Linked DNA regions of Homo sapiens: region 2 is reported to be linked to region 1. The links are microRNA targets in miRTarBase. Many come from high-throughput screens and were not tested one by one. Region 1 holds a microRNA gene; the other region holds the end of a gene's coding sequence.
What was found. The annotated mature microRNA hsa-miR-6826-5p reads UCAAUAGGAAAGAGGUGGGACCU and lies in region 1 at 3,729-3,751, shown strand. An mRNA with a match to its seed (bases 2 to 7 or 8) in the 3' UTR can be bound and repressed. Matches are read on the target gene's strand: a 7mer-m8 pairs with bases 2 to 8, a 7mer-A1 pairs with bases 2 to 7 and ends in A, and an 8mer does both.

Region 1 (5,072 bases):
GGGCCTCCATGGTGGTCCCTGGTGCACATTTTGCTCTATCTGCCAGGCATGGTGACCTCTCTTCACCTCCAGGTCTGACTGTGTCCATCCCTGGTCTGGAGAGGGCTCTGCAGCAGTACACTCTAGAACCATCAGAAAAACCTTTTGACCTCAAGTCTGTGCCCCTGGCCACGGCGCCCATGGCAGAGCAGAGAACAGGTAACACTTATACTCCTCCCAGAGGCCATCAAGGCCAGGCCTCTGTTGGAGGGTCTGCATTGGCTGCAAAGCCACTAACCTAACTAGGGTGGGTGGCAGTTATGCTGGGAGGAGGAAATGATCTTTTCCACCTCTGGCTCCAGAAAATAGAGACACACATACACACAGACGTGGGCTCTCTCACATGTCTTCTGCTTCCCACTCTCAGGAGGGTTAGTATTTATAATCCCTGAGTAATAGCACTGGGGTCACCACCACACTGCCCCGTGACTCCAGCTGTTGGTCATCACGTGTATAATTTGCTCCTGCAGAAAGTACCCCCATCACAGCAGTCAAACAGCCTGAGAAAGTGGCAGCTACCAGGCAGGAGATCTTCCAGGGTGAGTCACAGTGGTTGGGGGATGCTTGGGACCTGGGCTTAGTTTCCTCAGGGGGTTCAAGAGTAAGAACTGTCATATATTGGTCTCTCCTGAGTGCTAGGCCCTTGAGATGCTTTAGACCTACTATCACATTTGACCCTCAGGTGGTGGTTGTTGGGTTCCTTCAATATCTGAGGAATTGGAAGTTCAGAGAGAGAAAGTAGTAGGAGGGGCTGGAATTAAGGTCCCGATCAAACTGGCTCAGTGCTGTTACTGGGCCTCAATTTGGAGGGCTCGGGTCCCTGGAGCCCAGGCCAGTTCAGAATGTCTGAGAGAGCAGTGCTGGGATTCAAAGACACTGGTACTTTTTGTCGGGTTCCACGTGTGTTCTGTCCACATTGTCTTGTAAGGTTTTCTTCAGGTATCCATCTGTCCTCTGGTGTTGCATTTTTAAGGGGAGAGGCTGTGTGTCTAATTGCAGATTGTTTTATCCACTGAATTCAGTAGATAAAAGCATAGACCCCTCTTCCTTCATGGGCCCTCACTTCCATCCTAGCTCTTCTGTCTTCTCTTAAACAGCCCTCTGTGCTAAATAGTTCTTCACATGTTCTGTCTTTTATTTTCTGCGTCTATCACAGCACTGAGCCCAGTGCCTTCCTTCCTCACAGTAGGCTCCCAATTAATGTTGAATTAAATGAAATCCCCCCTTCCCCATTACACTCAGAATCATGTCTTATATCAATATAGCATGGATCCTGAGCTAATTGGGATCGCTATAACATGAAACTTTCCATTTATATCAGTTTTCTATTGCTGCTGTAACACGTTACCACAAACTTAGTGGCTTAACACATTTATAACCTTATAGCTCTGCGGTCAGAAGTCCAAAGTGGGTTTCATTTGTTAGCAGTGCTGAGTTCTTTCAGGAGGCTCCAGGTATTGCCCCCTTGCCTTTTCCAGCTACTAGAGGTGGCCCGTATCCTTGGCTCGTGGCCCCTTCCACCGTCTTTAAGGGCCCTTCTAGGGCAGAAGGTCAGAGTAGAGTGATTTGAAGAGGCCACACTCCTGGCCTTTTCAAATCTCTCTACTCTGACCTTCTGCCCTAGAAGGGCCCTTATGATTACACTGGCCCCCCCTGGATAATCCAGGATAACCCCTAGCTCAAGATCCTTAATTTAATCACATCTACAAAGTCCCTTTTACCATGCAAGGTAACATAGCTGCAGGTTCTGGGAATTAGCATGTGGGCATCTTGGAGTCATTATTCTGCCACACCTTCCAAGGAAGTCTCCTAAGCCGCTTAAAGGGTAACAATTCCATTTTTAAACAATCATCCAAAAGCCTCACATTTACTAATCACATACATGTTCAGTTCCAAGAACTTTCCTAGATCTTGAATTTATTGCCTCATTTGTCTTTACAACAACGCTGTGATCAAGATAATGATATCAGTTTTATTGATGAAGAGTCTGAAACCCTACCAACAGAATCCCCCAGGGAGTAAGTATCAGGCCCAAAACTCTGAGTCCCAAGAAAATAAATATCAATAGAAAAGCACTCTAGTGGTTGATGGTCATGGTGGCCCAAAAGTTCCTCCTAATATCTAGCCTGGATTGTTCTGGGCTTTTTATTGCCTGCATATTCATTAGATTCAGTCTTCAGGCTGCAGAGGGCTGAAGTGGTCACATAGGCTGACTTTTTGTGGAGGAAAAAAGCAAAATAATAAAAATAAGGCCTACCTTTCTCTATGTCTGAAACGTGAATTGAGTACCTTCTAAGTAAAGGGAAAAATATCAGATCCATGGCCTCAAAGCACAATCCCTGTTCTCATGGAGTTCAATTAATTGGGAAGACAAGTTGAAAATCTTAGAGCAGTGGTCTTTAAATATCAGTATATATTGGAATAATCTGAGGAAACATGTTAGAAATGCAAATTCCTTGATCCTGAAACCAGAGATTCTGATGTAGTAGATTTGGGATGGAGTCTGAGTTTTTAGCAAGCTCTGCCGCCAACCCCTAGTAATTCTGATACAGTTGATCCATGGTCATAGTGCGAGGAATCCTGCCATAGAATAGGTACAAGAGTGGCAGCTGTAGCCATTATAGGTGGACACCATGTGCACACATCTGCCAGATGCCTCATTCACTTGGGTTATTCCCTTTAGTTTGCAAGGAATGCCAGGACCAGCCAGGGTGGGGTCCCATGGGCCTGTGCTTGAATCCAGTGCTTGAACCTGGGCATAGGGTGTAGGGATAGGTCTTACCAGACACAAACAATTCTAAGTTAGGTTTTCTGCAACACTCTCATTCTGAAATATCTCTTTATTGGCCATTTGTCTTAACTGATAAATATATAGGACCAGTTTGTTATTTTGTCTGATTTTGTAGCTATAGCAGTATCGATCTTATTTTCCTAATTGTCACCTTCTTTTAAGAATCCTTGCTGCGGTAGGGGGCGGAAATCCTTGCTAAGCTTCTATAGCTGGGGGATTCTCCAATTAGGTCTAGGATTTTGTGGTCTCATATCAGTTTTTTGCTTCTGAGGTCTTTCATGGTACAGAGATGGGGAGAGTATTTGTGGGGGGTTGTGCCACATGAGCGAAGTCAGGGAGATGAGAAAATGCATGGATATATTCAGGAAATAATGAGTAGCCAGTTGGGTAAACATATCTATCCATCTAAGGTAGGGTGGAACACCTTGAGAATGGTCATGGGAATTTATTAGAAACCATCAACAAGTTGGTCTGGGGATCGAGAAGCTGAGTGAATGTGGCCTGTGGATTTCAGAGCAGTTGGCAGCAGTGCCAGAGTTCCGCGGTCTTGGGCCCCTCTTCAAGTCCTCGCCTGAGCCCGTGGCCCTCACCGAGTCAGAGACGGAGTATGTCATCCGCTGCACCAAACACACCTTCACCAACCACATGGTTTTTCAGGTGAGCAAGGTGGGCTGAGGCCCTGCTGGGGCATGCGCCCAGGGAGTTGTCCCAGGTCTGGCAGGTCCTGTAGGGTCATGGGTCCCCACACTGCATTGGTTGGGAGCCCAACTTGATGACAGAATCTGTCCCCAACAGGTCGGTCTCTCATATCTCTTGACTCGGGACATCCATGGCTCCCGATTGTCAGCATGAAGACAGGGAACCTGGGGCAGGGGGACTGGGATGGGAATCACCTTGGTCAATAGGAAAGAGGTGGGACCTCCTGGCTTTTCCTCTGCAGCATGGCTCGGACCTAGTGCAATGTTTAAGCTCCCCTCTCTTTCCTGTTCAGTTTGACTGCACAAACACACTCAATGACCAGACCTTGGAGAATGTCACAGTGCAGATGGAGCCCACTGAGGCCTATGAGGTGCTCTGTTACGTGCCTGCCCGGAGCCTGCCCTACAACCAGCCCGGGACCTGCTACACACTGGTGGCACTGCCCAAAGAAGACCCCACAGCTGGTGAGCCCCTCTCCAGATACCACCCTATCCTCCTGGGAGCTCATGGGGTCAGGAGGAGGTGGGCGGCTGGGCACCAGCTGTTTGCCTTCTATTAGAGCTTCAGCTCCTTGATTTCAGTCCCAAGAAGAAGAATAGCTGAGTCCCAAGTGCTCTTCTTTAAAAATTTTTTTTTTTAAAGAGACAGGATCTCACTAGAACTCATGACTTTCCTGTCCTACAAGGTGGCACCCTCTGTCCAGCTTTGTGGGATTGGATGGCTTGTTGCTGCTACTAATAACATAGCAGGGGCCTAGAAAGCAGGCTGTGACCCCTGCCTGCTTGTCCCCTGCAGGAGGAGCCCATCCCCTGCAGGCTGGGGACATCCTAACTACCCAGCCTCTCTTCCCCACAGTGGCCTGCACATTCAGCTGCATGATGAAGTTCACTGTCAAGGACTGTGATCCCACCACTGGGGAGACTGATGACGAAGGCTATGAGGATGAGTATGTGGTAAGATCCTGGTGTCAGGAAGCTCAGTTTTGTGCTGAGGCTGCAAAGCAACTCCCTTCAGGAACTGACAGTGAGACTGGAGCTGTTTTTGGCTTTTTAGCTCTTTAAAATTTTATTTTTTTATTTTTATTTTTTGAGATGAAGTTTCTCTTTTGTTACCCAGGCTGGAGTGCAGTGGCGCGATCTCGGCTCACTGCAACCTCTGTCTCCCTGGTCCAAGCGATTCTCTTGCCTCAGCCTCCCAAGTAGCTGGGATTACAGGCGCCCACCACCATGCCTGCCAAATTTTTTGTATTTTTGGTAGAGATAGGGTTTCACCATGTTGGCTAGGCTGGTCGCGATCTCCTCACCTCAGGTGATCCACCTACCTTGGCCTCCCAAAGTGTTGGGATTACAGGCGTGAGCCACCGCGCCCGGCCTAAAATAACTTTTTAAACTTATGGAAATACATGTTCATGTGTAAAAAGAAAACTTGGGAAATACAAAAACAAAATTCAAAACAAAGTATGAACAACAGGAAAACATTACTCATAATCCTTAGAGTTATTTTTGGGGGGAAGTGGTATAATTGAAATCATTCTTACAGTGTA
Region 2 (5,061 bases), not on the chromosome of region 1:
ATTCCCCTGCCTCAGCCTCCCAAGTAGCTGGGATTATAGAACCCCACCACCAAGCTCAGCTAATTTTTTTTTTTTTTTTTGAGATGAAGTCTCGCTTTTTCGCGCAGGCTGGAGTGCAGTGGCGTGATCTCGGCTCACTACAATGTCCACCTGCCTGGTTCAAACAATTCTCCTGCTTCAGCCTCCAGAGTAGCTGGGATTACAGGCACACGCCACCATGCCTGCTAATTATTGTATTTTTAGTAGAGATGGGGTTTCGCCATGTTGGCCAGACTGGTCTTGAACTTCTGACCTCAATTGATCAGACTGCCTCAGCCTCTGAAAGTGCTGGGATTACAGGCATGAGCCACCACACCTGGCCTGAGAAATCTGAACCTTTTTGCATTGCCATTGGTAATGTAAAATAGTGAAGCCACTGTGGAAAACAGAATGATGATTGTTAAAAAAATTAAATAAAGCAGGGTGCGGTGGCTCACGCCTGTAATCCCAGCACTTTGGGAGGCCGAGGTGGGCGGATCACCTGAAGTCGGATGTTCGAGACCAGCCTGACCAACATGGAGAAACCCTATCTCTACTAAAAATACAAAATTAGCCAGGCATGGGGGAACATGCCTGTAATCCCAGCTACTCGGGAGACTGAGCTGGGAGAATCGCTTGAACCCAGGAGGCAGAGGTTGTGGTGAGCCGAGATCGCACCATTGCACTCCAGCCTGGGCAATAAGAGTGAAACTGTCTCAAAAAAAAAAAAAAAAAAAAAGAAATACAGAATTGCCATATGATACAGCCATAGACAGTTTCATAAGAAACTCATCAGTTTTTCATACAAAGAACATGTTAAAACTGAAAGTTATGAGCATGATTATGGAAAGATGCCCAATAATTATTATACAAATAATAATGATTATATTCATGATTATATTTTCTTTTTGAGACACAGTCTCACTCTCTTGGCCAGGCAGGCGTGCAATGGCATCATCTTGGCTCACTGCAACCTCCACCTACTGGGTTCAAGTGATTCTCCTGCCTTAGGCCCCCGAGTAGCTGGGATTACAGGAATGCGCCACCACACCTGGCTAATTTTTGTATTTTTAGTAGAGAGGGGGTTTCACTCTTGGCCAGGCTGGTCTCAAACTCCTGGCCTTAGGTGATCTGCCCACCTTGGCCTCCCAAAGTGCTGGGATTACAGGTGTGAGACACCACGCCCAGCCTCAAAAGTTTCAAAGTTTGGCCATTTATAAAACTGCCCGTTAATATCTCATACTTTCTAGTTCTTCATATTCAAGAGCTATAAAACATGAATATATGTAGTATGTTTGAAAATAAAGTGGACATTGGATACAATGTTCTACTGAAACAGTACATGGCTATTTCATGATAATCAGTAAATCAGGAGACAGGGCAGCACATGCAGTGATGCCACAGATACTTTTTATTTTTTGTGGTAGCCACTGAAATGTCTGGAAATGCAAAATCAAAGGGGAGTAGAATGTCCCAGAGAATGTGACTCACATGTTCCCCAAATCTTTGGTGGGTTGACGCTAGGATAAACATCCAGTTAGGCCATCCTCTCCACCTAGAAAAACAAGGTAGGCTTCCATCTTTGGTCATGAGTACAATTCTTCTGTTAGTCACCACTGTTAGCATATACTAGTATATAACTCCCCTATAAATTCACAATGACAAAATCCTTGGGTTCTCACAGTTCTGATTATAAGTCCTATAATTACCTGTTTTAGTTACTTTAATAGGTTTATTAAACCTATTAATAATTCTTTATATTCTTTAAAAATGTATACTTTAAAAAATCTTTATGCATATATAAATTATTAAGGCTAAATTTAATGACATGTCTAGTCATTATAGACAAGGCATTTTACATATATACACACATACACACACGTGTGTTTTCTGTGTGCTACTATCAAGTCTAAATTTTTATGCTTTTGTCTCATTGCCCTGTTCATTTTTTGCTATGAAATTATCAGAAAAATAAGGATTGACAAGAATGGTTCCATTTACTACTGATTGGCAATGGCTGTCCCTCTCTAACAGGCCAGAGGGTCTGTTTAATATATTTAATGTCAAATATTTGAACCCTGAACCATCTTTCTGTTTATGCAGATATGGTTTACAGTTCTAAATCTTTTAAAAAACAATTTTCAGGCTGGGCACGGTGGCTCACGCCTGTAATCCCAGCACTTTGGGAGGCTGAGGCGGATGGATCACGAGGTCAGGAGTTCAAGACCAGCCTGGCCAACACAGTGAAACCCTGTCTCTACTAAAAATACAAAAATTAGCTGCGTGTGGTGGCACGTGCCTGTAGTACCAGCTACTTGGGAGGCTGAGGTAGGAGAATCGTTTGAACCCAGGAGGCAGAGGTTACAGTGAGTTGAGACCATGTCATTGCACTCCAGCCTGGACGATAGAGACTCCATTTCAAAAAATAAATTAATTAATAAATTTCAATTTCTACTGAATTTTATTACAATGACTTCATATACATAGTAAATACTGGTTATAAGTAATCCTTCCCAAGAAGGACCTGCAATAATGCTGTTCAAGTTGCCACTGAGCTTACTCTCCTCGCCAAAAGGATACCGTGGAAGTCACTGTCTTCGCAGATTTCCAATTCTCAAACATCAAAATCTCTCTAGTCACTTATTTGGGATTTTCAGAGACTTACATTTCTTATAGATTATGGTAGAAAAGGCTTATGTTGTAGCCAGGCGTGGTGGGTCACCCTGTAATCCCAGCACTTTGGGAGGCCGAGGCAGGCGGATCATGAAGTCAGGAGTTCGAGACCAGTCTGACCAACGTGGTGAAACCCCGTCTCTACTAAAAATACAAAAATTAGCTGGGCGTGATGGCACATGCCTGTAATCCCAGCTACTCAGAAGGCTGAGGCAGGAGAAGCACTTGAACCCAGGAGGCAGAGGTTGCAGTGAGCCGAGATCGCTCCACTGCATTCCAGCCTGGGCAACAGAGCGAGACTCTGTCTCAAAAAAAAAAAAAAAAAAGAAAAAAAAAAAGACTCTGGTACTCTCAAATTTTCCTCACCTATTTCCCTTCTCAATGTCCCTTTCTCTTGTATGAATTCTAATTCCTTGATATTAAATAAGGTGTAATAAGCTATGGCTAAAGTACCCCTAAAATCATGACAACTACAAGATTTCCCTCCAATACGAATTTGCTTGTTTTGCATTTAAGCATTGAGAGACAGCTAAAGGCCTTCTACATATACTGCATTCACATGTCCATGATTTATTAATAGCCTTCTCACAATTATAAAGCCGCAAGGTTTCTTTTTAGTAGAAATTCTCCAGTCTGAATGACCAAAAAAACCTCATATATACTCTTGGAATGAATAAGTCCAGTCCCAGGTATAAATTCAACAGAAATACATACACGCAAACACACACATGATATAAACAAGAATATTTACAGCAGTATTTTTATTATTACACAAAAGTATAAAAAATACAAATATCCATCAATAGGATAAACAGCAATATATTCTTAAAATGGAATAGTATGCAAAATGAAAATACACTACTGCCACATGCAATAATGTACAGATCTTAAAAAATTGAGTGAAATAAGCAAGACACAAAATAATTCATGATGTCTGATAAAATATATATTTATAAAATTGAAAACATGCAAAAACTACGTTTTGATGTTATAGGCTACGGAAGTGGTAACTCTTAGGTAAGTAACAACTAACTGCTTTTTATTACAGAGTGCAATGAGAAATATAGTTCATAAATATTTTCTCTTATGGAGATTAATACTTATAATCATTGTGTATCTTGTCTCTGCATGTATTATATAAGTATTTTTAAAAAATAAACTATTTGAGTCAGTAGGAAGAGCAGTTGACTTTAAAATTTAGCTTCATAGCTGATAGAGTTCAATAATAATGATCATACTTATTTTATATGCTAGTAAACAGTAGACAGTTATTCCGTATGGTACTTTAATAATTATTAGACTTGTGATTTAAAATTACATTAACATGTTTCAGCATGCTTTTCTTTTTAAAACTAAATGTTTACAACAGCTTGTAAAGAATTCATATAAGAAACCACATCATTTATTGCATTTCAATGTTTTCTCCCTTGTGAGTTCTTTGATGGACAATGAGGTTTCTCTTATAACTGAAAGACTTACCACACTCATTACAAACATAGGGTTTCTCACCTGTGTGAGTTCTCTGATGTACAATAAGATTTGTCTTCTGGCGGAAGCACTTTCCACATTCACTACATTTATATGGTTTCTCTCCCGTATGAGTTCTTTGATGATGAATGAGATATGACTTCCTGCTAAAGGCTTTCCCACACTGAGGACATTCATAGGATTTCTGGCCGGTATGTATTTTCTGATGTACAGTGAGGGTTGCTTTCTGGCGAAAGGACTTCCCACATTCATTACAAACATAGGGTTTCTCCCCTGTATGAATTCTCTGATGTAGATTGAGATTTGTCTTTTGACTGAATGATTTACCACATTCATTACATTCATATGGTTTCTCTCCTGTGTGAGTTCGGTGATGATCAATGAGGTATGACTTCATTCTAAAGGCCTTCCCACAGTGAGGACATTCATAAGATTTCTCCCCTGTATGTGTTCTCTGATGTGCTACAAGGGTTGTCTTCTGGCGGAAGGACTTTCCACATTCACTACAAATATAGGGTTTCTCCTCATTATGAGTTTTCTCATGAAGAGCAAGGGTTGTCTTCTGGGAGAAGGATTTCCCACATTCATTACAAATATAGGGCTTTTCCCCTGTATGAGTTCTCTGATGTACAGTAAGATTTGCCTTCTGGTGAAAGGACTTCCCACATTCTTTACAAATGTAGGGTTTCTCACCTGTATGGATTCTCTGATGTAGAGAGAGTGTTGTCTTCTGGCGGAAGGACTTCCCACAGTCATTACACTCATATGGTTTCTCTCCCGTGTGAGTTCTCTGATGACGAATGAGGTGTGACTTCAATCTGAAGGCATTCCTACATTGCAGACATTCATACGATTTCTCCCCTGTGTGTGTTCTCTGATGAT

Region 2: the mRNA of ZNF567 is a reported target of hsa-miR-6826-5p. Seed matches in the 3' UTR shown: 8mer at 3,491-3,498.

The regions. Positions count from the first base shown.
Region 1 is chr3:129,268,423-129,273,494 of GRCh38, forward strand. It overlaps MIR6826 (microRNA 6826), which reads left to right and starts at 3,724; the gene lies at 3,724-3,821. COPG1 (coat protein complex I subunit gamma 1) reads left to right here. Exons shown (of 24, transcript NM_016128.4): 17 at 73-198; 18 at 510-578; 19 at 3,345-3,487; 20 at 3,822-3,993; 21 at 4,385-4,482.
Region 2 is chr19:36,719,701-36,724,761 of GRCh38, reverse strand. It overlaps ZNF567 (zinc finger protein 567), which reads right to left. Exons shown (of 6, transcript NM_001322917.1): 6 at 3,426-5,061. The coding sequence ends at 4,094. Among named protein-coding and RNA genes, the nearest start is that of ZNF567, 35 kb to the right of the region's middle.